7 linked regions of the Homo sapiens genome follow. The protein of the gene in region 5 interacts with the protein of the main gene of each other region in a biochemical or structural test. Each region holds a gene or a part of one and is shown on either strand. Other genes may lie near its edges.

The links.
Region 1: the proteins of LGALS3 (region 5) and ENG form a complex in vitro, tested with the Homo sapiens proteins (one study listed by BioGRID and IntAct).
Region 2: the proteins of LGALS3 (region 5) and ANXA1 interact in a test that uses a peptide from one of them, tested with the Homo sapiens proteins (one large-scale study listed by BioGRID).
Region 3: the proteins of LGALS3 (region 5) and TRIM6 form a complex in vitro, tested with the Homo sapiens proteins (one study listed by BioGRID).
Region 4: the proteins of LGALS3 (region 5) and MEFV form a complex in vitro, tested with the Homo sapiens proteins (one study listed by BioGRID).
Region 6: the proteins of LGALS3 (region 5) and NCR3 interact in a biophysical measurement, tested with the Homo sapiens proteins (one study listed by IntAct).
Region 7: the proteins of LGALS3 (region 5) and TRIM22 form a complex in vitro, tested with the Homo sapiens proteins (one study listed by BioGRID).

The regions. Positions count from the first base shown.
Region 1 is NC_000009.12:127,827,159-127,830,658, forward strand, and holds part of ENG (endoglin isoform 1 precursor), read right to left. Parts: intron 2,670-3,500; coding exon 2,529-2,669; intron 1-2,528. UniProt on the Homo sapiens protein: Vascular endothelium glycoprotein that plays an important role in the regulation of angiogenesis. Required for normal structure and integrity of adult vasculature. Regulates the migration of vascular endothelial cells.
Region 2 is NC_000009.12:73,158,365-73,161,864, reverse strand, and holds part of ANXA1 (annexin A1), read right to left. Parts: intron 3,344-3,500; coding exon of another isoform or gene 3,330-3,343; coding exon 3,264-3,329; intron 3,171-3,263; coding exon 3,062-3,170; intron 2,537-3,061; coding exon 2,442-2,536; intron 1,603-2,441; coding exon 1,489-1,602; intron 1,063-1,488; coding exon 972-1,062; intron 1-971. UniProt on the Homo sapiens protein: Plays important roles in the innate immune response as effector of glucocorticoid-mediated responses and regulator of the inflammatory process. Has anti-inflammatory activity.
Region 3 is NC_000011.10:5,603,137-5,606,636, forward strand, and holds part of TRIM6 (tripartite motif-containing protein 6), read left to right. Parts: intron 1-109; coding exon 110-599; intron 600-1,397; coding exon 1,398-1,493; intron 1,494-2,200; coding exon 2,201-2,431; intron 2,432-3,500. Other genes in the region: TRIM6-TRIM34 (tripartite motif-containing 6 and tripartite motif-containing 34), read left to right, coding at 110-599, 1,398-1,493, 2,201-2,431.
Region 4 is NC_000016.10:3,253,834-3,257,914, reverse strand, and holds the start of MEFV (pyrin), read left to right. Parts: upstream 1-1,281; 5' UTR 1,282-1,327; coding exon 1,328-1,604; intron 1,605-3,124; coding exon 3,125-3,757; intron 3,758-4,081. UniProt on the Homo sapiens protein: Involved in the regulation of innate immunity and the inflammatory response in response to IFNG/IFN-gamma.
Region 5 is NC_000014.9:55,142,588-55,145,923, forward strand, and holds the end of LGALS3 (galectin-3), read left to right. Parts: coding exon 1-162; intron 163-2,528; coding exon 2,529-2,684; 3' UTR 2,685-2,836; downstream 2,837-3,336. UniProt on the Homo sapiens protein: Galactose-specific lectin which binds IgE. May mediate with the alpha-3, beta-1 integrin the stimulation by CSPG4 of endothelial cells migration.
Region 6 is NC_000006.12:31,590,207-31,594,354, reverse strand, and holds the start of NCR3 (natural cytotoxicity triggering receptor 3 isoform a precursor), read left to right. Parts: upstream 1-1,348; 5' UTR 1,349-1,633; coding exon 1,634-1,676; intron 1,677-4,148. UniProt on the Homo sapiens protein: Cell membrane receptor of natural killer/NK cells that is activated by binding of extracellular ligands including BAG6 and NCR3LG1. Stimulates NK cells cytotoxicity toward neighboring cells producing these ligands.
Region 7 is NC_000011.10:5,692,790-5,696,289, forward strand, and holds part of TRIM22 (E3 ubiquitin-protein ligase TRIM22), read left to right. Parts: intron 1-3,377; 5' UTR 3,378-3,443; coding exon 3,444-3,500. UniProt on the Homo sapiens protein: Interferon-induced E3 ubiquitin ligase that plays important roles in innate and adaptive immunity.

The sequences.
Region 1 (3,500 bases), on a different chromosome or scaffold from region 5:
CACCCAGCATGTGATGGGTGCTCCCCGCCTATGGGAAGACAGGGAGAAAGGGAAGAAAGAAGAAAGGGATGGATGAATGAATTAATGAATTAAAGACAGATATCAGTGGTCCCTGCCCTAGGGGATATTACCATTCAGAAACTAGACATGCATCAAGTCATTTGAAACAATAGAAGACAGAATTTTATTTAATAAGAAACAAAGGAGCCAGACAGATCTCCTGGTTGGACAGGGATGGGGAGTCTGGGTGGCTTCAGCATCTCACTGCCTACCCTGCCATTGCCTCAGAAGAAATGGGGGTTGGGGGTGAGGAGGAAAGCAGACAGGGAAGACTTCCTGGAAGAGTGACTCTGGAAAGCTGAAGGATTCAGAGGAAGCTGTTGGGGCCACTGACTGAGCTCTTAGTGTACAGTCTCCAAAGCCAAGGGCATTGAGCTGAATGAAACAGCAGCAGCAGAAGGGCAAAAGGGCTTCGGGTTGGATTTAAAAATATTTTTTATTATAATTTTTTAGAGACGAGGGTCTCACTATGTTGCCCAGGCTGGTCTCCAACTCCTGGCCTCAAGAGACCCTCCTGGCCAGGCACAGTGGCTCACGCCTGTAAACCAGCACTTTGGGAGGCCGAGGCGGGTGGATCCCCTGAGGTCAGGAGTTCGAGACCAGCCTAGCCAACACGGTATGAAACACTGTCTCTACTAAAAATACAAAAAATGAGGTGGGGGTGGTGGCAGGTGCCTGTAATCCCAGCTACTCGGGAGGCTGAGGCAGGAGAATTACTTGAACCCAGAAGGCGAAGGTTGCAGTGAGGCGAGATGGGGCCATTGCACTCCAGCCTGGGCAACAAGAGTGAAACTCCATCTCAAAAAAAAAAAAAAAAAAAAAAAAAGGAGACCCTCCTGCCTCGGCTTACCAAAGTGTTGGGATTACAGACATAAGCCAGGTCGCCTGGCCCAAGCTAGATATTGAGGACTGCCAGATGGCAACAGTAGACAAGACACCCTAGAATGGCCCATCTAGAAGGAAGTAGATACCTTCTCTGTAGGGATTCAACAAGGGGGCAAAGTGATGGGCATCTTGGGTGAGGAACCCAGCCCGCGGAATGGGAAAGGGCTGGGACACTGGCTTTACAGCTGGGTTGGGAAAGGGATCTGATCCTTGAGTCAGCCCCTGTAAAATGGGGATACAGCAGGGCACGACGTCTGTTGGTCGCCTGGCACTGGGTCGGCCACCGAGGCCGCGCCTTGGCCTCTTTGTCCCCTCTGGCCACCGGCCCCAGGGAGCCCGCTCGGGAAGCAGCGCGGCCCCAGGAGGAAGGCGGCGCGGCCGAGGCCAGAGCCGGCGGCTACTGCGACCTTCCGGCTGGCGGGCGCGTTTCATGTTCCTGCCTCACCCTGGGCTGCACGGACTCAGATCGGGAAGGGGGAGGATCCATGGTAAAGGCCACGCCCCCTCTGGGACCTCGATTCCCCTTCTGGGCGGCCGAGGGATGGGCTGCAAGGAGTCAAATCCTCTTGGCCCTGGTGGTTGGATTTGGCCCCCTCCCTCCTAGGACTTTGGCATGCTGGCTTGGTCATGTCTGACTGTCTCTGTGCTGTCCCTGTCACCAGTCCGGAAGCTTCTCCCCTGTCCCCCACGCCCAACTTCGCTCAAGCCTGCCTCCCTCCCGCAGTGGGCATGTTTCTTTCTATGCCTCTCTCCCCTTTGCTATCTTTGCTCTCCCCCGGGCTCTCCCCTTCCTACCCTCTGCTTTCTCTGTTGTAAACAACAGCTGCTCACATCTGGGGGCCACCTCCCAGACATTCCTCATGGAGGAGGCAGTGCTGGCAAGCCACCCTGCCTCCTCCAGCCCTGACCTCTGGCAGTGGGTCCCAGCTCCCTGACCTCCTCTCTCTGGTGGATATAGCTAACACTTTTAAAAGTTGAGGCTTTTGGTTGTTTGTTTTTAATTGTTTTTCCCAAATCCACAGCTGACCTGAAAACTTGAGTTTTTTAAAAATACTTTTTTCTCCAAAATAGGCCAAATCCATTTAGAGCAACTCTTGCAAACTCAACAAAGTGTGAAGAACCAACTAAATGTCTCTCCTAATCCCACTTCCCAGCCATAACCACTGTTAACACGTTAGGTTTTCTCCTGGCCCTTTTCCTCTGTCTTTAAATATTTTCAAATATATGTCGTGTAACTTTTTCAAAGACAATGAAAAGATTATCATATAAAATATTGAGTTCAGTTGTCCCACTGGACAGAGAGGCAAACTGAGCCTATGCAGAGGATCAGAGTTGGCCAGGGCTGCACATCAACCTGACTCCCACCTCTTGGTCTAGACTCTTTACTGTAGTCCTGGTGCCCTCTGGGTTCTCTCTGGTAGAGACCATTGGCTTCACCAGGCAGGACCCTGGTGAATAATGTCAAGATGAAAGGGAGAAGCAGGGCTGGGCCGCTGGGGTGGGAGACCCTGACCCACAGAGATGGACAGTAGGGACCTCCCATGGCCAGAGCCTCAGCCTGGGGTTGGAGGGAACACACTCACGTAGGCCAAGTGCAGTGGGATTCCCAGGGCCTGGAGATGCAGGAAGACACTGCTGTTTACACTGAGGACCAGAAGCACCTCTCGGGGCCAGGTGCCATTTTGCTTGGATGCCTGGAGAGTCAGCTCCAGCTGTGACGGGCCCTGGGGGACACAGAGGAGAGACACACACAGTCCAGTCAGATTTGTATAGGTTGTGCCACCCAGACAGGCAGTGATGATTTGGATGCTTCCACTCCACTCTCCCTGCCTGCTCTGTCCACCCTCACCTCCCAGTGCCCAGGGTAGTGCCTGTCCCTCTGGCCATCCTCAGGGAATTCACAATAAACAAATGAAGGAGGTAAGCCCGGCAAATCTGAAGAGAGAAAAAAAATTAGGCTGGGCACGGTGGCTCACGTCTGTAATCCCAATACTTTGGGAGGCTGAGGTGGGCGGATCACCTGAGGTCAGGAGTTGGAGACCAGCCTGACCAACATGGTGAAACCCCATCTGTACTAAAAATACAAAAATTAGCCAGGCGTGGTGGTGGGTGCCTATAATCTCAGCCACTGGGGAGGCTGAGACACAAGAATTGCTTGAACCCTGGGGGCAGAGGTGGCATTGAGCTGAGATGGCACCACTGCATTCTAGCCTGGGCAACAGAGTGAGACTCCATCTAAAAAAAAAAAAAAAAAAAAGGCCGGGCATGGTGGTTCACACCTGTAATCCCAGCACTCTGGGAGGCTGAGGCAGGTGGATCACCTGAGGTCAGGAGTTCGAGACTAGTCTGTCCAACATGGTGAAACCCCGTCTTTACTAAAAATACAAAAAATTAGCCAGGTGGGGTGGTGGTGGATGCCTGTAATTCCAACTACTTGGGAGGCTGAGGCAGGAGAATCTCTTGAACCCAGGAGGTAGAGGTTGCAGTGAGCTGAGATTGCGCTATTGCACTCCAGCCTGGGCAACAAGAATGACGCTCCGTCTCAAAAAAAAAAA
Region 2 (3,500 bases), on a different chromosome or scaffold from region 5:
ATAAACTATCACTGGCCTATATCTTGGCCATATGAAAAATATATAAACACTTATTTTTATAAACTATGTTTTATCAAACAAAAATAATCATCATTATTACCACTGACACATGGATCTAACATAAACATTGGTAATTAAATAAGAATTGCAGAAAATGAGGTTTAAAAGCTTCCTTATTTTTATTCTTTTATTAAATTCCTCTGAAAATGATATGCAAAAGCTATTGTATTCTCCATGCTTGGTATGAGAATCAAGCAGAAAGATCTTCTATATGCCATATATTGCATTGGGAAAGCCAAAAAGCCAGCAGCTCAGGGAAATGAGAGTAGGAAAATGGTAAGAGACTTGCAATTACCCTCTTTTCAGTGTTGAGCACATCATTTAAATGAGATGCTTCACTGGAGAGATAAAATAAGCTAAGACTAGTCTTTTATTCTGTGAATTTAACTAGAGATAAAGTGAGTCTCTTATGTTCATAACGATAAAGTTAAGGTTTCCAACAGAGAATTATAAGCACCTAATTCTTTACTTTTTCAAGGACAAATGAAAAACATTTTGTTAGGAGATTTTTTTGTTATTATATATTCTTTTCAAAAAAAATGACCTTGGGACATTTTTATAAAATACATTCCAGAATAATAGAAAAGTGTTTTTCAGAAATTTTTAAAAATTCAATGCTCTGAATTGAGGTTTCCATTATAATCGTATGTGGCCATTTATCCTAGAGGAACATTTTCTATTAAAACGCAAGCTTGATGCGGATTGGGACACCATCTCCCTTGTCAGCAACCTAGCAACTCAAGCGTTGCCTGGTAACAGCATTTAATAGACATGTGCCAAACAATAAAGAAACATTTTGATATGTGGAGATTCCAAAGCTGCCATAATTACCATAGACAGTCAATTTTAAGAAAGTATATTAGATTTCCTTTTCAAATAAGGCGTTTGGACTGTTGGACATTACAACTTACCCTCTCTGTAGACCCTGTTAATGTCTCTGATTTCTTTGTTAGTTCTTGATGCCAAAATCTCAATTAGAGTATCTTCATCAGTTCCAAGGCCCTAAATTTGAAGAGAAGAAAAGGATAAATGTAGAAAAAAATCTTCATGCAAGAGGATCAATGAGTTTTTGGTGTTCCAAAATTTGTTTGACTCTGTCATTTAGTAAATTTCACCCACAACATTTAATAATTACAATAAGCTCTATTACATTGCCCTAAAACAAAACAAGTTTATCATCAATATTTTGGGTAAAAATAAAAATGCAAATATATGACTCATATAGTGACATGACATGGAAGGTGTTAGTGCCAACATTTCTGTTTTCATTTATATATTAATTCCTTCATTGAGGTATTAATTTATTTATTCTTCAAACTCCCACTGATTGACAGGTACTATACTAGATTTTGAAAATAACATAAGCATAAGTGACTTGCCCAATACATCCTCTTGAGGAAAGGAGTTTGCTCAAATTGGGCGATTTACCTTCATGGCAGCACGAAGTTCATCAGCATCAAATTGCGCTGGAGTTTTTAGCAGAGCTAAAACAACCTCCTCAAGGTGACCTGTAAGGGCTTTCTTCAGTGTTTCATCCAGGGGCTACAAAAAAAAAGATTAGAATCAGGACTTCCAATAAGTAACATGCTAGGTTAAAAAATGTGATATTACCTGACTTTAGGTCATCGTACAACTCATCCCTAAACCCAACCATCTTTTAGAGCTTCTTCCCTTCACATACAAAGTGTACCAAATATTTTGAAACATTATCTTACCCTTCCAGATCTAGAGGGATTAAAATAAAATTTACTGAATTCATCAATAACTTCTTAAAGCATAGGGTTAGTAATCTTATACACAGGGGAGAAATCACAAAGATCAAAACACAGAGGACTGTGTGCTAACAGAAAACAGAAGTAAAATTACTTTTAAAATAATATATTCATGTTTCCAATCTTTGAGGTTTGTACTTCTCAAATAACAAGCAGTATAATCAGATACTGAAATTATATAGTTTTCTAATTTCATTGCTTTAGAAAACTACTCATATTTGGTATAAAAGACATAAGGCTTATTTTTAAAGTAGAATTATATATAAAATTTAGGCATTAAACAGTTCAGTTTAAATATTAGTACATTTCAATCAGACCATATTCTTTATTGACAGCAGCAATCTCGATGTTTACGTTCAAATTAAAAATTTGTCCCCAGAGCACCACATCTGCAAACAATATACACCAAGATGACTAATGTATAAAAATAGGAAATTTGATAAAATTGATTAAATTGCAACAAAGTGGATAAACACTGCAATCCCAATCATAGATGTAATGAGAAAACAGTGGTTAGAACCTTAAAGAACTAGGTAACTGTGCTTCCGAATCCATGGTTAAGTATAACTATGCTGAAATTAAATATCTAAATTTACCACTCTAACTTACCTTTCCTGTTTCCTGGAGATATGCTGCTTTGATCTGTTGACGCTGTGCATTGTTTCGCTTAGTTAGAATGTCAATGATGGTTGCTTCATCCACACCTGGAAATAAAGGGCCAACAGCCTTTAACACCAATTTTCTTCATCATCAATTGACATAAAATAATTCATTACTGAGATGCTCCAAAAGAACTTCTTAACAAATTAAGAAATATAAATTATATATCAGCCTAAAAAATCGATGCTATACTACATATCAAGGAAGCACTTGGGAGAATGACATTTCATTCGAGTGAGAAAGGAAGAGACAATTAACTTTTCCTGGCCCTCAGTGTTGCAGTGTTTGATACTAGTTGCAACTCTATATGTGAACAGAGCTTTTAATTTCAGCATGGAATTTCTGCTAGAAATGAGCCAGTAATATCTGCTGTAACAATAGAGATTCCACTGATGTGAACACAATTTCCTCAGTGTTAAGTAAATAATTACATCTTCGTTTGGCAAAGAAATGTTTTTATCTTCAAAATGAAACAGATTCTTTCCATTGCACATGTCTGTTTTTTGACAGTCATTCAAATAGCCATTCTGAAATGTCCAGGAGGGAACTGTTTTGAGGAAACACGTTACCTTTAACCATTATGGCCTTATGCAAGGCAGCGACATCCGAGGATGGATTGAAGGTAGGATAGGGGCTCACCGCTGATCCGGGACCACCTTTGGATGACTTCACAGTTTGCTAAGAATGAGAGAGAAATAAATTAATGGCCATTTACTTATATTCGTTTTTATTTCAATATTGTAATCATAATTTTATTATCACTCTACTTACAACATATTCCTGCTCTTCATTTTCAATAAACCAGGCCTGCTTGAGGAATTCTGATACCATTGCCATTTTTGAAAAAGTGTCTGGAAAGAAAACAGTTAGATGCTTTTACAAAACAAATGCACCACACACAACCTCTCCTTCCTCACCTCTTACATACATAAGAGTTAGCATTAGAGAGTAGCCTTGCGCTTACTTTCCAGGATCAATTACACTTAGGAGCATAACAAAATGTAAGAC
Region 3 (3,500 bases), on a different chromosome or scaffold from region 5:
CTTGTTACCCCAGGTGTCTGACCTCTTTATCCAGGACTGGGCAGTCAGTATTCCCTTATTCTCCCTCCTTTCTTACCCTGATCCTTTTTTTGTTTGTTCATCTACCTAGGATTCTACAGGCAGGAAACATCTTAGAAATCAGGGTTGGGCAGGCAGGAGCCAGGAGAGTAGCTACAATGACTTCACCAGTACTGGTGGACATACGAGAAGAGGTGACCTGCCCTATCTGCCTGGAGCTCCTAACAGAACCCCTGAGCATAGACTGTGGCCACAGCTTCTGCCAAGCCTGCATCACACCAAATGGCAGGGAATCAGTGATTGGTCAAGAAGGGGAAAGAAGCTGCCCTGTGTGCCAGACCAGCTACCAGCCAGGGAACCTGCGGCCTAATCGGCATCTGGCCAACATAGTGAGGCGGCTCAGAGAGGTAGTGTTGGGCCCTGGGAAGCAGCTGAAAGCAGTTCTTTGTGCAGACCATGGAGAAAAACTGCAGCTCTTCTGTCAGGAGGATGGGAAGGTCATTTGCTGGCTTTGTGAGCGGTCTCAGGAGCACCGTGGTCACCACACGTTCCTCGTGGAGGAGGTTGCCCAGGAGTACCAGGTGAGACCCCAGGATGGAATGGGAGACAGAGAAACAGGGTCTTTGGCAGGTTTTAACGTTTTATCATGCTCTGATCTAATCTCTTTGTAGTCTTTATTTACCTAGAGAATGAACCTGGAAACTGCCTCCCTGATTAAGAATAGATTCTTTATCATTTACTTGCTATTCCAGATTGAGTAGATAGAGCTGCTTGGGGTAAAAGGGGTACTTGGTTGATTGAGTGTGGAGATATGTTGGCAGGGTAGGTAAAGGAATTTATTTACTCATGTATTTATTTTGAGAAGGCGTCTCGCTCTGTCGCCCAGGTTGGAGTGCAGTGGTGCGATCCCGGCTCACTGCAACCTCCGCCTCCCGGGTTCAAGCAGTTCTCGTGCCTGGCCTCCCAAGTAGCTAGGACTGTAGGTGTGCACCACCATGCCCAGCTAATTGTGTGTGTGTGTGCGTGTGTGTGTGTGTTTAGTAGAGATGGGGTTTTGCCATGTTGCCCAGGCTGATCTCAAACTCCTGAGCTCAGGCAATCCACCCGCCTCAGCCTCCCAAAGTGCTGGGATTACAGGCGTGAGCCACAGGTGCTTTGTGGTCAGGCACCTTCCCAAGGGGGATGGAGAATCAGCCTATCCCTGTTGGTTTTCATCCCATGTATATATATAAAAGATTTGTTGGCCCTCTCAAGTTTTCATCCTAGGTTAGGACAGGCTTCTTTTGAGGTTAGCAGAATCTCTGTCCCATTCATTCTATGTCTGGGTACTGAGTCAACTGAAGGCTTGATCCTGCTTGACCTGATTTGTTTTCTTCAAGGAGAAGTTTCAGGAGTCTCTAAAGAAGCTGAAGAACGAGGAGCAGGAAGCTGAGAAGCTAACAGCTTTTATCAGAGAGAAGAAAACATCCTGGAAGGCAAGGGAGACTTTTTCTGAAGATGTCCTGGGGCAGGAATCATGGCAGGTCATAGGAGCTGAGGGCAAAGGAGTCCTTGTCCTGTCTGTCCTCTGATGCCATGACTAGAAGAGCTTCCCTTTGCCTGGTCCTCCACTATATTCCTTCCAAACAGGGGGAGGAGAGGAGGTAAATAGCAAATATATCAAAACTGAACCTAGGAGACAATCACATAGCAGAGGAACCATGGCTAGGGGTCGCCCCAATTCATAATTCTGGGTCTTGCTCTACAGTTTCAGTCTCTTTGGCTTTTCCCTTGCATTCAGAGTACAAATGCAAGGGAAAATGCAGGTAAGGCTTGTGAAGAAGCCCAGATCTGAGACAGGTTAGTCACAGGCCAGTGATTTCCACCTCAGTACTCGAAATTGGAAGAGGAGGCTGATGCAGAGGTGAGGGAGGCTTCCTGGAATCTAAACGTCACCCAGGAATCACAGTTGATGTCTAGATGGCCTAGATAAAGCAGCCCGGGGCCAATGGTCTGGGCAGAGCTGAAGGGAGAAAAGAAGGAAAGAACAGGCTACAAAGGCTTTCTCCTGCAGCATTTACCCTCCCTCTCCCTGGGAGGCTTGGCCCAGGAAAGCAGTCCTGAGCCCAACTTCCCCGCTTTTAATAGAGGAGACCCTCAGTGTGACCGACTAGCAGCCTCTTTTTCTTCCCTGTTCCTGAAGAATCAGATGGAGCCTGAGAGATGCAGGATCCAGACAGAGTTTAATCAGCTGCGAAATATCCTAGACAGAGTGGAGCAACGGGAGCTGAAAAAGCTGGAACAGGAAGAGAAGAAGGGGCTACGAATTATAGAAGAGGCTGAGAATGATCTGGTCCACCAGACCCAGTCGCTGCGAGAGCTCATCTCGGATCTGGAGCGTCGATGTCAGGGGTCAACAATGGAGCTGCTGCAGGTAAGGCTTGTGAAGGAGCCCAGATCTGAGAGTCAAGGAAAAGAGAAACTAACTTTCCTTCCTTTCTGGGACATCAGACTACCATCGTTGCAGGGACAAGAGAAAACATTCCTTTGGCGCTATAGTGCCTATCCCCTATTAAACTGTTTAGAGGTATGGAGTAAAGCGTAAGATAATTCAGAGTACAAATGCAAGGGAAAGTCCCATTTTTATTTATAAAGGGTTGTCTAAAAGTTTATTTGATGCTGTGGAGAAGTTCTGTTGTATCCAGTGATGTTGTTCTTTCTTTCTCAGTCTTGGCACTATTTACATTTCTGGCTGGATAATTCTTTGCTGCGTGGGGTTCTCCTGTACATTGTAGGATGCTTAGCAGCGTCTCTGGCCTCTGCTCACTAGATGTCAGCAGCACCACCCCAGATGTGACAACCCCAAATTTCTTCAGACATTGCCACGATAGCCCCAGGGTGAACACAGTGCTCTCCCAGTTGAGAACCACTGTTCATTAGGCACCTCTCGTCTCTGATGCTGTGTTGGGAATTTGCCAAGTGCTTCTTACCCAGCTTAGTCACAGGCACACTTACGCCAAGCTAAATTCTTAGAGATGATGTATTACCAGCCCTTCTTTGTTTTCACTCTCTTCTCTAGAGCAGAATCATTTAACATACTGTAGCAATTGATATTTGAACTGGTTTTGGGGGTCTGGGCTCTGGTCTGTATGTGTGTAGGTCGCAGATTACAAGGTATCAAGCCTAGAGAGATTTGATGGAGGGACTTGAACTGAGGTTGAAATTCTAGCAGCTATTTTCTGCATAGAATGAATAGTGTGGTTGTGAATTTGAGGCATGATGTAGCTTGTGATATTCTGTAACCTTCAGAGTGTAAGATATTCTTTATATTTTGTTTGTCTTCGTGCTTTCCTCTTGCTCCTTCTTTCTTGGTGGAATAATTGTTTATTTACATATTCTTGGGTCTTAGTATTAGAGCCATGGGTAGCTACTTTCTGCCTGTTACAGCTTTTTCTCATTCACTGCTTCCTGCTTTGCATCTTCATTTTATTCTTCTTGCCTTT
Region 4 (4,081 bases), on a different chromosome or scaffold from region 5:
GGAGGCAGAAGTTGCAGTGAGCCAAGATCCCACTACTGCACTCCAGCCTGAGTGACTGAGCAAGACCCTATCTAAAAATAAAAAAATTAGGGTATGCAACGGTCAGAAGTAGGTAAGTGAGGAGTCAGTTCACCCTACATGTAATTTTTCATTTATTTATTTTTTTTGAGACAAAGTCCCGCTCTGTCGCCCAAGCTGGAGTACAATGGCGCAACCTCGGCTCACTGCAACATCTGCCTCCCATGTTCAAGTGATTCTCCTGCCTCAGCCTCCTGAGTAGCTGGGAGTACAGGTGCGTGCCACCATGCCTGGCTAATTTTTGTATTTTTAGTAGAGATGGGGTTTTACTGTGTTGGCCAGGCTGGTCTTGTACTCCCAACCTGAGGTGATCCACCCACCTCGGCCTCCCAAAGTGCTGGGATTACAGGCGTTAGCCACTGTGCCCTGCCCCCAACATGTAACTTCTGTTAGCTTCAAAGCCACCTCTGGGGCCCTGCACCACATATGAGCTGAAGGACACCCGTGCCTTTTCACCCGTGTAGCTCCAGCATCTTGGCACACTGTCTAGAATGTTCAATGAATGTGCACGGAAGAGCATTCTGGCTCCAGGGAGCGAGGACTGAGTCAGCTCTGGGAACAGATGAGTCAGGCTGGTGGTCCAGGCATTGCTTTTCAAGTCCTTCATGTGGCTGGAAGAACCAGTCAACTGGAACCGGATCAACAGGGGTGATGGCATGGCAAGAGTTATCTCCTGGCAGTGCCCTTCTGGCCTCACTTGCCTTCTTGGGCCAGGAAAGGCAAAGCTCACAGGACTGTATTCAGTGCCCACCCCTTCCCCCGTCCTGTGCCATTGGCTCTGGAAGGTCCCTGAAACCCCGAGTCTGGAGGAGAACAGTTGACCAGCAGGGCGGGCCCTCAGCATAGTCCTCTCTGTTCCCACTCACCCGCTCTGCCAGCCCCAGATCCTGGCAGGAAGGAAGATTGGAGGGGGTGTCTGGAATCCAATCCCAGACCTTCCCTTGCAGACTTGCCCATCTGTCTGTGGTCTAGTGTGGAGGCGAGGTCCAGGGTTTGGGAGGGGTGTGGGGGCACATGTCTGCCAAGGCATGGAGCCCTCCCAGCTGGAAAATCCTCTGAACCTGTAAGAAGAGAACACAGCCGGCATGGACACACCCTTACCCTTAGTCTCAGTTCCCACCAAGACACAGAGCATTTCCTGTGCCTTTTCCGCTATTTCACAACCTGCCTTTTCTTGCTCACCAAGGACAGAGGCTTCTTTTCCTACCAGAAGCCAGACAGCTGGCTCGAGCCTCTCCTGCTCAGCACCATGGCTAAGACCCCTAGTGACCATCTGCTGTCCACCCTGGAGGAGCTGGTGCCCTATGACTTCGAGAAGTTCAAGTTCAAGCTGCAGAACACCAGTGTGCAGAAGGAGCACTCCAGGATCCCCCGGAGCCAGATCCAGAGAGCCAGGCCGGTGAAGATGGCCACTCTGCTGGTCACCTACTATGGGGAAGAGTACGCCGTGCAGCTCACCCTGCAGGTCCTGCGGGCCATCAACCAGCGCCTGCTGGCCGAGGAGCTCCACAGGGCAGCCATTCAGGGTAAGCGGGCCCAGGCCTCCTCCTCATCCAGTGCTGAGTGCTGGCTGCTTTGTGGGAAAGGGGACCAGGAGCTCAGAGCAGCTCACTCTGACCTGGGGATTGGGAGTCTCAGGTCTACCAAAATCCAGATGACTTTAGTTCAGGAACGTCCCTTTCTTCACTCTGGCCTTTGGAACTGGGTTAGTAAACTTCCTTCAGGCTCCTAATGGGTTTTTTAAGAAGCAGGTCAGGGTCACGAAAGGCAGGAGCTGGAACACCTGTTCTTTGAGACTTCTTCACTACATTTATGATTAATACTCATGTCAGACAAACATCTCTAGGTTAGCAAAAAGGGATTGCTATGCAATCATATGAACGGGGTTGGTATAGAATCTTCTCAGTGCTGTTCACCATGTTGGCCAGGCTGGTCTCGAACTCCTGACCTCAAGTGATCCTCCCGCCTCAGCCTCCCAAAGTGCTGGGATTTCAGACATAGGCCACCGTGCCCGGCTTATTTTTATTTTTAAAGCGTATAATCTGGGTTTTGCTGACCTGTGTAAGATCTTATTTGAAACAGTTGTCCTGCTTAAAACGTTTGAAAAGTACTATTTGAGAAATATAGGCTAGGCATGGTGGCTCACACTTATAAATAATCTCAGCACTTTGGGAGGCTAAGGTGGGTGGATTGCTAGAGCTCAGGAGTTTGAGACCAGCTTGGGCAACATGGTGAAACCCTGTCTCTACCAAAAATACAAAAAAATGAGCCAGGCGTGGTAGCACACACCTGTATTTTCAGCTATTGAAAAAACAGAAAACAGGCTGAGGTGAGAGGATTGCTTGAGCCTGGGAGGCAGAGGTTGCAGTGAGCTGAGATCACATCAGGGCAACAGAGCAAGATCCTGTCTCAAAAAATAAAATAAGAGAGAGAGAAATACATAGCAACATCAAGCATGTTCTTACTGAATGGTAATTGACTGCCATTGTCTAGTCTAGGAAGTCCTGAACTTTTGTTTTTGAGATGGAGTCTTGCTCTGTCACTCAGGCTGGAGTGCAGTGGCCCGATCTCAGCTCACTGCAACCTCCACATCCCGGGCTCAAGCGATTCTCATGCCTCAGCCTCCCGAGTAGCTGGGACTACAGGTGCGCACCACCGCGTCTGGCTGAGTTTCTTATTTTTAGTAGGAACGGGGTTTTGCCATGTTGGCCAGGCTGGTCTCGAACTCCTGACCTCAAATGATCCTCCCACCTTGGCCTCTGGAGAAGCTGGGATTACAGGCATGCGCCACCACGCTCAGCTTATTTTTGTATTTTTAGTAGAGACGGGGTTTCACCCTGTTGGTCTTGAACTCCTGATCTCAGGTGATCCTCCCGCCTCGGCCTCCCAGAGTGCCGGGAATACAGGCATGAGCCACCGCGCCCGGCCCGTTGTTTTCCTCAATTTCTAAACTTTAATATCCAAGGGGATTCTCTCTCCTCTGCCCTGAATCTTGGGCCCTAAACGTGGGACAGCTTCATCATTTTGCATCTGGTTGTCCTTCCAGAATATTCCACACAAGAAAACGGCACAGATGATTCCGCAGCGTCCAGCTCCCTGGGGGAGAACAAGCCCAGGAGCCTGAAGACTCCAGACCACCCCGAGGGGAACGAGGGGAACGGCCCTCGGCCGTACGGGGGCGGAGCTGCCAGCCTGCGGTGCAGCCAGCCCGAGGCCGGGAGGGGGCTGTCGAGGAAGCCCCTGAGCAAACGCAGAGAGAAGGCCTCGGAGGGCCTGGACGCGCAGGGCAAGCCTCGGACCCGGAGCCCGGCCCTGCCGGGCGGGAGAAGCCCCGGCCCCTGCAGGGCGCTAGAGGGGGGCCAGGCCGAGGTCCGGCTGCGCAGAAACGCCAGCTCCGCGGGGAGGCTGCAGGGGCTGGCGGGGGGCGCCCCGGGGCAGAAGGAGTGCAGGCCCTTCGAAGTGTACCTGCCCTCGGGAAAGATGCGACCTAGAAGCCTTGAGGTCACCATTTCTACAGGGGAGAAGGCGCCCGCAAATCCAGAAATTCTCCTGACTCTAGAGGAAAAGACAGCTGCGAATCTGGACTCGGCAACAGAACCCCGGGCAAGGCCCACTCCGGATGGAGGGGCATCTGCGGACCTGAAGGAAGGCCCTGGAAATCCAGAACATTCGGTCACCGGTAAATTGTGTTCTTTCCTACTTTATATCGGCTGCAGAGAAAGAATGGCTGGCCGGGCACGATAGCTCATGCCTGTAATCCCAGCGCTTTGGGAGGCCAGGGCGGGAGGATTGCTGGAGGCCAAGACTTTGAGACCAGCCTGGTGAATGTAGTGAGACCCCCGCCATCTCTATAAACGAAATTAAAAAAATAAAAACCCAAAGGTTGGGCAGGGCGTGGTAGCTCTCGCCTGTAATCCCAGAGCTTTGAGAGGCCTGCACGGGAGGATCTCTTGACCCCAGGAGTTCCATACTAGCCTAGGCAACACAGTGAGACCCCATCTCT
Region 5 (3,336 bases):
GCTTTAGATTTCCAAAGAGGGAATGATGTTGCCTTCCACTTTAACCCACGCTTCAATGAGAACAACAGGAGAGTCATTGTTTGCAATACAAAGCTGGATAATAACTGGGGAAGGGAAGAAAGACAGTCGGTTTTCCCATTTGAAAGTGGGAAACCATTCAAAGTAAGTTATTGCTACTATTATATATTGATAATGTATATTTCTCATGAGGAATCACTCTAAAACCCCAAAGCACTTGAAGTGAGAGTTTTTATCACCTCTCCTAAGGTGCCTAACCAGTTTATCTTCTCCCTGCCCAGGGGACCAGGCTCAGCAGGCTGAGAACATGGCCAGGAGTGGCACACTCCCCAGTTCCTTTCAGGCACCTCTCCATCATCACTGCTGCCACCCCTCTGAGTTTAAGCCTTTCTAGAAATGAAAAGAATATAATCTTTAACAAAAAAGGCAAAAAGTCTTTATGGTACAGTTATACTGCGACTTTGTTGCTTAAAACACAGTTGGCAGAGAGATGAAAACTAAAGGTTTTTTATTCTAAAATTAAAGTTTTATGAAAAGTTTATAAATTTTTAAATTAACAAAGTTTCCTATCTTTTACTCCTTCCCCCATCCTCACAAAGTTGCAATTCGATGAGTATCTTCCCAGTATTTTCTGACATACAGCACGCTTTTTATTTGTAAGCACTGCTTCAACAAATTAGATCCACAGCATTTAGGGTTGACTATAGAGTGGTGAATAAAACAGCTGGAGTGTAAACTCTTCAACAACAGGGACAAATAAGGACCACAGTCTACATTTGGTGGATATCTTTTCGTATCAGAATATTGTTACTTAATAGCACTTTTTTTTTTTTTCGAGACAGAGTCTCGCTCTGTCGCCAGGCTGGAGTACAGTGGCACGATCTTGGCTCACTACAACCTCCGCCTCCTGGGTTCAAGCGATGCTCCTGCCTCAGCCTCCCAAGTAGCTGGGATTATAGGCGTGCGCTACCATGCCCAGCTAACTTTTGTATTTTCTGTAGAGACGGGGTTTCACCATGTTGGCCAGGATGGTCTTGATCTCTTGACCTCGTGATCCGCCCACCTCAGCTTCCCAAAGTGCTGGGAGGATTACAGGCATGAGCCACCATGCCTGGCCAGTAGTATTTCATTTTTAGATATGTGATAATTTAACCAGTACCCTACTGATGAAAATTTACAGAATAGAAACACTCCAACCTGGAAAGATTTTACTAAAATACTGTAATAACTATCCTTACAAATCTTTGCTTCCTAGAAGCAAGTCTTCTAGAAATCTTTGCTTCCTAGAAGCAAGTCTTCTAGAAATCTTTGCTTCCTAGAAGCAAGTCTTCTAGAAATCTTTGCTTTAAATATACATGTTTACAATTTAGATATTGTCAAATTGCTGCTTCCAAAAAGATATAGGAATGAACATCCACTATTGGGAAGAGTAGATTTCTCCTACCCTTGCCAAAACTGATTATCATCAATCCTTACAACATTTGCCAGAGGAATCCTATTTTCGTGTTTTTCTTTTAGGTGTTTTAGACCATATCAGAACTTTTGGTTGTTTTGAGACAGGGTCTCACACTGTCACTCAGGCTGGAGTACAGTGGCATGGTCACAGCTCATTGCAGCCTGTCAACCTCCCAGGCTCAAACGATCCTCCCACTTGAGCCTCCTTAGTAGCGGAGACCACAGATGTATGCCACCCACGTGTGGCTAATTTTTGTATTTTTCTTGTAGAGATGGGATTTCACCATGTTGCCTGGGCTGGTCTCAAACTCCTGGGCTCAAGATCCGCCCGCCTTTGCCTCCCAAAGTGTTGGGATTACAGGCGTGAGCCACCACACCCAGGCTCTTTTAAGTTTTTATGCAGGCAAATCTTTAGCCTCCACCTTTATGGCTTCACTTATGTATCCTTCTAATAAATTTGCTGCTTTAAAAAAAAAACCTGAATAACTTGGAATTTTTTTGTTGTTGCTTTTTGTTTTTTTGAGACGGAGTCTCACTCTTTCGCCCAGGCTGGAGTGCAGTGGCACTATCTCGGCTAACTTCAAGCTCCGCCTCCTGGGTTCATGCCATTCTCCTGCCTCAGCCTCCCAAGTAGCTGGGACTACAAGGTGCCCGCCACCACAATCAGCTAATTTTTTGTATTTTCAGTAGAGATGGGGTTTCACTGTGTTAGCCAGGATGGTCTCGATCTCCTGACCTTGTGATCCACCCGCCTCAGCCTCCCAAAGTGCTGGGATTACAGGCGTGAGCCACCCCGCCCAGCATAACTTGGCATTTTTGCTGTAAAGTTACTTTCTCTGGATCTTAACTGGTCCCACAAATGATAAGGATGAAATGTTGGACATCCTGGGCTCAGGCCAGACTGGTTTGAAATTAATGGACATTTTTTCCCTTTATTTCAGTTGACAAAAAATTGTTTCTATAGTGCAGATGAAATATGTATATATTGTGGAATGCCTAAATCCAGCTGACATATGCATTACCTCATGTAACAGTTTATGTATATGCCATTTCAGATACAAGTACTGGTTGAACCTGACCACTTCAAGGTTGCAGTGAATGATGCTCACTTGTTGCAGTACAATCATCGGGTTAAAAAACTCAATGAAATCAGCAAACTGGGAATTTCTGGTGACATAGACCTCACCAGTGCTTCATATACCATGATATAATCTGAAAGGGGCAGATTAAAAAAAAAAAAAGAATCTAAACCTTACATGTGTAAAGGTTTCATGTTCACTGTGAGTGAAAATTTTTACATTCATCAATATCCCTCTTGTAAGTCATCTACTTAATAAATATTACAGTGAATTACCTGTCTCAATATGTCATTTAATTGGAGTGGTTTATTCTAGATAATGCACAATGGAAAAAATATGTAGCAATATTAATACTGCATTGGGGCCTCAAGGTTTCCTATACTTGTTAAAATATTTTTCTTAAGGAGAAAGTAAATATTACCACAAAATTATCTCTTCCAGAATTTCATAAAAATCAGCTGTTTCAAGAAAATTATTCTCTCATTTTCTTAAGGAAATATAACATGTTCAGGAAATCAGAATAGCATTAAGAAAAAGTTAACCTATAGATGACCTATGACCCATAGACAATTATTGTTAGGATTCTGGTATATTTCTTGACGGCTTTTTAATCCTATTTTCTCCTTCTATAGTTCACTGCTTTCAAATCAGTAATTTGATACCAATATAGGACCATCTCCCTGGTTTTTATGAAATCTCTTATGGAGAAAAAGGTATCTTATATAGTCGGCTTTCAAAATTTAATTGTTCCCATCGTCAACATTCTTGCCCATGCCTTTCTACC
Region 6 (4,148 bases), on a different chromosome or scaffold from region 5:
CTTTTTTTTTTTTTTTGAGACGGAGTTTCGCTCTTGTTGCCCAGGCTGGAGTGCAATGGTGCGATATCAGCTCACTGCAACTTCCGCCTCCTGGGTTCAAGTGATTCTCCTGCCTCAGCCTCCCGAGTAGCTGGGATTACAGGTGCGCCCCACCACACCCGGCTAATTTTGTATTTTTAGTAGAGACGGGGTTTCTCTATGTTGATCAGACTGGTCTCGGACTCCTGACCTCAGGTGATCCTCCCACCTCAGCCTCCCAAAGTGCTGGGATTACAGGCATGAGCCACCACGCCCAGCTGAATGTTGTTTTCCTGCCTGCTAACATAACATCCATCCTGTAGTCCATGGTTTAAGGAGTAATTTAGACTTTCAAGTCTCATTATTTAAGAAATACATTTCGCCAGGCATGGTGACTCATGCACTTTGGGAGGCCTAAGTGGATGGATTGTTTGAGCCCAGGAGTTGGATACCGGCCTGGGCAACACAGGGAGACCCCATCTCTACAAAAAATACAAAAATTAGCCTGGTGTGGTGGTGTGCGCCTGCAGTCCCAGCTACTCAGGAGACTGAAGTGGGAGGATCAACTGAGCCCTGGAGGTTGAGGCTGCAGTGAGCCGTGATGGCGCCACTGAACTCCAGCCTGGGTGAGACAGAGCCAGACCCTGTCTCAAAAAACCAAAACAGGAATCCCAGCACTTTGGGAGGGCGAGGCTGGTGGATCACTTGAGATCAGGAGTTGGAGACCAGCCTGGCCAACATGGTAAAACCCTGTCTCTACAAAAAATACAAAATTTAGCTGGGCTTGGTGATGTGCGCCTGTAATCCCAGCTACTTGGGAGGCTGAGGCAAGAGAATTGCTTGAACCCAGGAGGCAGAGGTTGCAGTGAGCCGAGATTGTGCCACTGCATTCCAGCCTGGGCAACAGAGTGAGACTCCAGCTCAAAAAAAAAACAAAAAACAAAAAAACCCAACCAAACACACACACACACACACACACACACACACACACACACACACACACACACACAAGGTGATTGCTATGCAAATTAAATATAGCTTCACCAATCAGCTTGCTTCTCCTAATCCCTCATAGAAATCTTGGAGTAGCCCTGGGGTGCAGTGAGGCCAGATTCCAGGAAGGGAATGGGTGGGATGGGTCTGGGTACTGGTGAGCAGCAGGGAGGGTAAGTAGGTTAGCTTCTGGGCCAAGGAGGGCTCCTGGAGGCTTGTTCTGGGTAAAAGCTGGTCTCCTTGAACCTCGGAAGGTGGGGGAACCCACATCCTGGTCTCACCCGCCCAACCGCCCACTCACCCTTGGGTTAGCAGCCATCTAAGCCCCACCCTCCCCCTCACACGCTTAGCTAGCCTGCCACAAGCTGGCCCCTTGGCCTCCTAGAGACCCTGACATCTCCTCCAGCAGCATCTGTCCTCTCTCCTCAGGGAGGCAAGCATTTGATGCTCGAGGTCCCTGGCAGTTGTGGTCCTTGGCAAGTGATGTGTGAGTCCCGTGTGTCATAGGAAGCTCCCCATCCCCATCTGGTGACCAAAGGCCTGGCTACAAGTAGTGAGTCCTTCCTCCTCCACCCAGACCTCACTGCTCAGATCCCCTTCGCCAACTGGGACATCTTCCGACATGGCCTGGATGCTGTTGCTCATCTTGATCATGGTCCATCCAGGTGACAGGGCGTGCGCTCAGGACCCCAAGGAGTGTGGGTGGGAGGAGGGAGATCCAGGAGGCTGGACTAGATGCTATAGGGAACGGGCTTGGTGGGGGCTGAAACACACGGCTCTGAGGGAGGAGTGGGACTGCTCCAAAGGTGACACTCAGTGGACTCCCCCAATTCACAGTCTCTCTGTGTCACCCACTGTGAGGCTTTTTAGTTTGAGAGATCCAAGTAAATCTATGATAAATTTCTTGGTGAAACTTTTTTTTTTTTTTTTTTGAGACTGAGTCTCGCTCTGTCGCCTGGCTGGAGTGCCGTGGTGCGATTTTGGCTCACTGCAACCTCTGCCTCCCATGTTCAGGTGATTCTCCTGCCTCAGCCTCCTGAGTAGCTGGGACTACACGCACGCACGACCACACCTGGCTAATTTTTTTTTTTTTTGAGACGGAGTCTTGCTCTGTCACCTAGGCTGGAGTGCAGTGGCATGATCTTGGCTCACTGCAACCTCTGCCTCCTAGATTCAAGCAATTCTCCTGCCTCAGCCTCCTAGGTAGCTGGGATTACAAGCGCGCACCACCACACCCAACTAATTTTTGTATTTTTAGTAGAGACAGGGTTTTACCATGTTGGCCGGGCTGGTCTTGAACTCCTGACCTCAGGTGATCTGCCTGCCTCGGCCTCCTAAAGTGCGGGGATTACAGGCCTGAGCCACTGCGCCCAGCCATTTTTGTATTTTTAGTAGAGATGGGGTTTTGCTATGTTGGCCAGGTTGGTCTCAAACTCCTGATCTCAAGTGATCTGCCTGCCTCGGTCTCCCAAATTACTGGAATTATAGGCATGAGCCACTGCGCCCGCCTGGTGGTGAAACTTTTTTTTTGAGACAGTTTCATTCTGTTGTCCAGTCTAGAGTACAGTGGCGGTATCTCAGCTCACTGCAGCCTCCACCTCCTGGGTAAAAATGATTCTCCTGTCTCAGCCTCCCAAGTAGCTAGGATTACAGGTGCATGCCATTACTGCTGGCTAACTTGTGTATTTTTAGTAGAGACGAGGTTTCACCATGTTGGCCAGGCTGGTCTCAAACTCCTGACCTCAGGTGATCCACTCGCCTTGGCCTTCCAAAGTGTTGGGATTATAGGCGTGAGCCACTGCACCCGGCCGAAACTGTTTTTAATGAACTGAGAGACCTTAACTATCAGGCATATTATTAACTAAATGCAGGAGTTCTCAAAATGTGGATTTCTGGGAACCTAGAACAAATTCTTAGGCCCCACTCCAGACCTACTGAGTCAAAAACTCGGGGGGTAGGCCCAGGAATCTGTTCTAGCAGATGCTCCAGGTAATTTCCATACACACTCAAGTTTGAGAACCACTGAAATAGAATGACTTGTAAATTTCCCTAAGTAGATAATTTAATCAGGGATTTTAATATTTGGTTTAATTCATCAACATGGACGGGTTAAATAGGAATCTCAACCAATTAAGGCCACGTCTTCACCTGGAGATTTAATTAGTTACTTTCTTTAACGAAAACCAAGAGTGGCTGGGTGCACTTTGGGAGGCCGAGGCAGGTGGATCACTTGAGATCAGGAGTTTGAGACCAGCCTGGTCCGAGGTGGGTGGATCACTTGAGGTCAGGAGTTTGAGACCAGATGGTGAAACCCTGTCTCGACTGAAAATACAAAAATTAGCCAGTCGTGGTGGTGGGTGCCTGTAGTCCCAGCTACTTGGGAGGCTGAGGCACCAGGATCGCTTGAACCCAGGGGACGGAGTTTGCAGTGAGCCAAGATTGCACCACTGCATTCCAGCCTGGGCAACAGAGCAAGACCCCATCTCAAAAAAAGAAAAAAGAAAAAGAGGAAGGATGGCTTACTGTACAATGCCATTTGTACTAAAATAATACCTGGATAATATAATGAGTGATATTAGTTAACTAGGCAGCTGCATTCATTAATGAGCTTAATTTCACCATGATGGTTTACATTTCAGCTAGACAAGTTACTACTGAACTGGCTGGAGAATGATGGCAGAGGGTGAGAGTGAGAGTTGGTATAGGAAGAATTTGAAAAATGATTTTTATTTTTTATTTTTTGAGATGGAGTCTTGCTTTGTCGCCCAGGCTGGAGTGCAATGGCGCAATCTTGGCTCACTGCAACCTCTGCCTCCCGGGTTCAAGCGATTCTCCTGCCTCAGCCTCCCGAGTAGCTGGGATTACAGGTGCACACCACCATGCCCGGCTAATTTTTGTATTTTTTTAGTAGAGACGGGGTTTCACCATGTTGGCCAGGATGGTCTCGATCTCCTGACCTGGTGATCCGCCCACCTCGGCCTCCCAAAGTGCTGGGATTACAGGCGTGAGCCACTGCACCCAGCCGAAAAATGATTTAATAAGCAATGTTAAGAAATCAGATTGGTTAAGAGGGAAGGGTTTAATGAGGCACCCAAAGTATCTATTCCCATGCACCCTATGCCTGGAGAAAGCTGGGA
Region 7 (3,500 bases), on a different chromosome or scaffold from region 5:
TCTCAAAAAAAAAAAAAAAAGATATTGATGGCTAAACCCCTTATAATTTTTCTCCTTATTGTGTAGCCACACTAATTTAATTTAATCTTTTTTTTTTTTTTTCTTTTGACGGAGTCTTGCTCTGTTGCCAGGCTGGAGTGCAGTGGTGTGATCTCAGCTCACTGCAACCTCCGCCTCCTGGGTTCAAGTGATTCTCCTGCCTCAGCCTCCAGAGTAGCGGGGACTACAAGCAACTGCTGTCACACCTGGCTAATGTTTGTATATATATATATTTTTTAGTAGATACGGGGTCTCACCATAGTGGCCAGGCTGGCCTCAAACTCCTGACCTCAGGTAATCTGCCCGCCTCGGCCCCCCAAACTGCTGGGATTACAGGCTTGAGCCACAGCGCCTGGCCATCTTTTTTTTTTTTTTTTTTTTGATTTAAATTGCACAGATAAAGAAAGCTTCTGTGCAGGTAATCAGAGTATTCTGAAACAAGGAAGCTACGGACCTAGTTAGCCTTCACCGTGTCATAGAAACTTCTACATTCGCACCACCTTCAAAGGGGAGCATGCATTTTGTTTATGTGTCTGTCTGTCTACCTGTCTTAGGTCGGAAGGGTTTCAATGGGGCTACATTTCTTCAATGTTAGAATAAAGAATGAATAGGCCGGGCGCGGTGGCTCACGCCAGTAATCCCAGCACTTTGGGAGGCCGAGGCGGGCAGATCATGAGGTCCGGAGATCGAGACCATCCTGGCTAACACAGTGAAACCCCGTCTCTACTAAAAAGACACCAAAAAATCACCCGGGTGTGGTGGCGGGCGCCTGTAGTCCCAGCTACTTGGAGGCTGAGGCAGGAGAATGGCGTGAACCCGAGAGGCGGAGCTGGCAAGGAGCCGAGATCGCACCACTGCACTCCAGCCTGGGTGACAGAGTGAGACTCCGTCTCAAAAAAAAAAAAAAAAAAAAAAGAATGAATAAATCAAGAAAAATAAGCACTTGTATTAGTTTTCTAGAGCTGTCATAGAAAAAGTACCAAAAGTGGTTGGCTTAAATAGCAGAAATATATTGCCTTACAATTCTGGAGGCTAGTTATCCAAGATAAAATGTGTTGACAGGGCTGGTTCCTTCTGAAGGCTATGAAGGAGGCCTCTGGTCCATGCCTCTCTTCTAGCTTCTAATAGTTTCCTGGAAACCTTTAGCATTCCTTGGCTTATAGGTGCATCACCCTGATCTCTGCTTTCTTCTTCACCCTGGCATATTCCTTGTGTATAAATGTCCCTTTTTGATAAGGACACAGTCATGTTGGATAAGGGTCTACCCTAATGAGCACATGGTAACTAAATAGTATTTAAATATACTAGTTTCAAATAAGAGCACATTCACACATTAGGATTTCAACATCATTTGGGGAGAAACAGGACAGACTTTATCTCTCTGCTACATATTCTCAATGTACTTGGCCTCCTTTATGGATTGAGACTTTTCTCCCATGACCAACAGATGTTTCTTTGAAATGTATATTGAGTCTATATCATGTGTGTGATCCTATAACTATTTTAGCCTCTTTTCCTCTTCCCAAAATATATACATCTTTAGGTTCCTATCACCATCCTTGCCATATGTCCAGGCCAAGGTGAAATTTCAACATTTAAAACCACAGCATGCCCCAGAACTACATAGCTGGTCTGGATCTCTCCATTTCTATACCCCCAATAGCACTGGGTATCAGTATAGCTCTTGTAGCCTTTACCTTTGTTGTCTGTATAAATCTGTGCTGCAGTGGAGAGAACTCTGAAGGAGGACCTTGGGGACAATACATTCACTCTTACTCTACCTATTAGATTAGAATGAGTGATCTTTGTAAGTCACTTGATTCTATTGACACACCTGAAGAAAGGGAGTATTCTTATTTCTCAAGGGTTTTGTATGAAGAATAAAGAAGTCAAAATGATTTCTAAATTGTAACTGCTTATAAAATTGTTCATGATAAAATTATTTTCCTATTATGGTGTTGGTGGTGGTGGTGTGTGGGTGTGTGTGTATGTCTTTGGGGATGGAGTGTGAGGTCATGGGAGGACTTGCTATGGGTAGATGTGTTAGGATGTAAACACTTCTTCACTGGAAACCATAATTGTGGTCCCAAAGGTCAGCTATTGGGAAACTGCTAATTGATGGAAAGAAAAGATGAAAATCTGATTAAAAGGTCTAATCATCTATGGAGGGATAAGGAAGTTGTGGCTTTATATATTCGTTAAATGTTTTATTCCTGTATGTGATTCACTTTTCTAGGTATAGAGGACATATCAGTGAACAAAAAAAGTCCCAGGTCTATGAATGGATTACTTTTCAGGAGGAAGAAGTAGACATTTAAAGAACAATCTTATATATTACATAGTAAAAATAAGAAGCTAAATGTGCAGTGAGTGACAGTACTGGTGGTTTTGCTATAAGTAAATTATAGTATGTCCTTCTAAGAAGAGGACTTCTAAGAGGAGACTGAATTAAATGTAAGAGTGAGTCTTGCTAACATCAGGGGGAGGATCATTTTATGCAGAGAGAGGAGCAAGTGCAAAAGCCTTGAGGAGCCATAGATTTGATAGTTTAATTGAGGAGGTATTTTTTACATGGGGAAAAAAGTCAGAGGAGATAAACCTTAACAGTATAAGTAAAATAATTCAGACACCAAAGACATATATTATGATTCTATTTTTATCAACTGATTAAAAACCCAAAGGATATTAGTAGTGGTTGCCTGGAGCTTGGGATCAGAATAGGAGTGATGGCATTAGGGTTTTTTTTTTTCAGGTGATAAAAATAATTTTAAATTGGGTTACAGTAATAGTTATATAGTTCCACAGATTTACTAGAAATTATTGCATGATACACTTAAAAATGATGTTTGATGCAGTGTTTGATGCTATGTAAATACAATTCAATAGCTTAAAAATATGCAAATATTCATGAATCATGCAAATATTGGGGATACAATCATGCCATTCAGAGAGAAAAGCCTGTGTGCAAGCCCAGGGGCAGGGGTGTGTTTAGTGCATTTAACATGGAAAATGTGTTTTGGGTTGGGGAACAAAAGGCAGGACAAATGATGGGTTACACGAAGCTCTTGGTAGAAGAGCCTCAGTTTGTCCTCTCCAGTAGAAGAGAAAATAACAATAATTGCCTTGATGGGGTGAAATTTGTCCTGAGACAAAAATTAAGAATAAAGTGTTTGAAATTACTACAAAGTCCATTTTATTCTGTCATTGGTTTATTCTTCATGCCTTTCTTTTCTCCTTTCTCTGTTAAATATTAATGTTTTGTCCTGTTCTAAATCTCTGTAAAAGCAGTATTCTTTCTATTCCTTCTTTTCTTACCCTGTCCCCTTCAACATTCTCAGCACTGCAGGAGTTTGTGACCAAGAACTTCAAGAGTCAAGACAGAAGGAAGCCAAGGGAGCAGTGCAATGGATTTCTCAGTAAAGGTAGACATAGAGAAGGAGGTGACCTGCCCCATCTGCCTG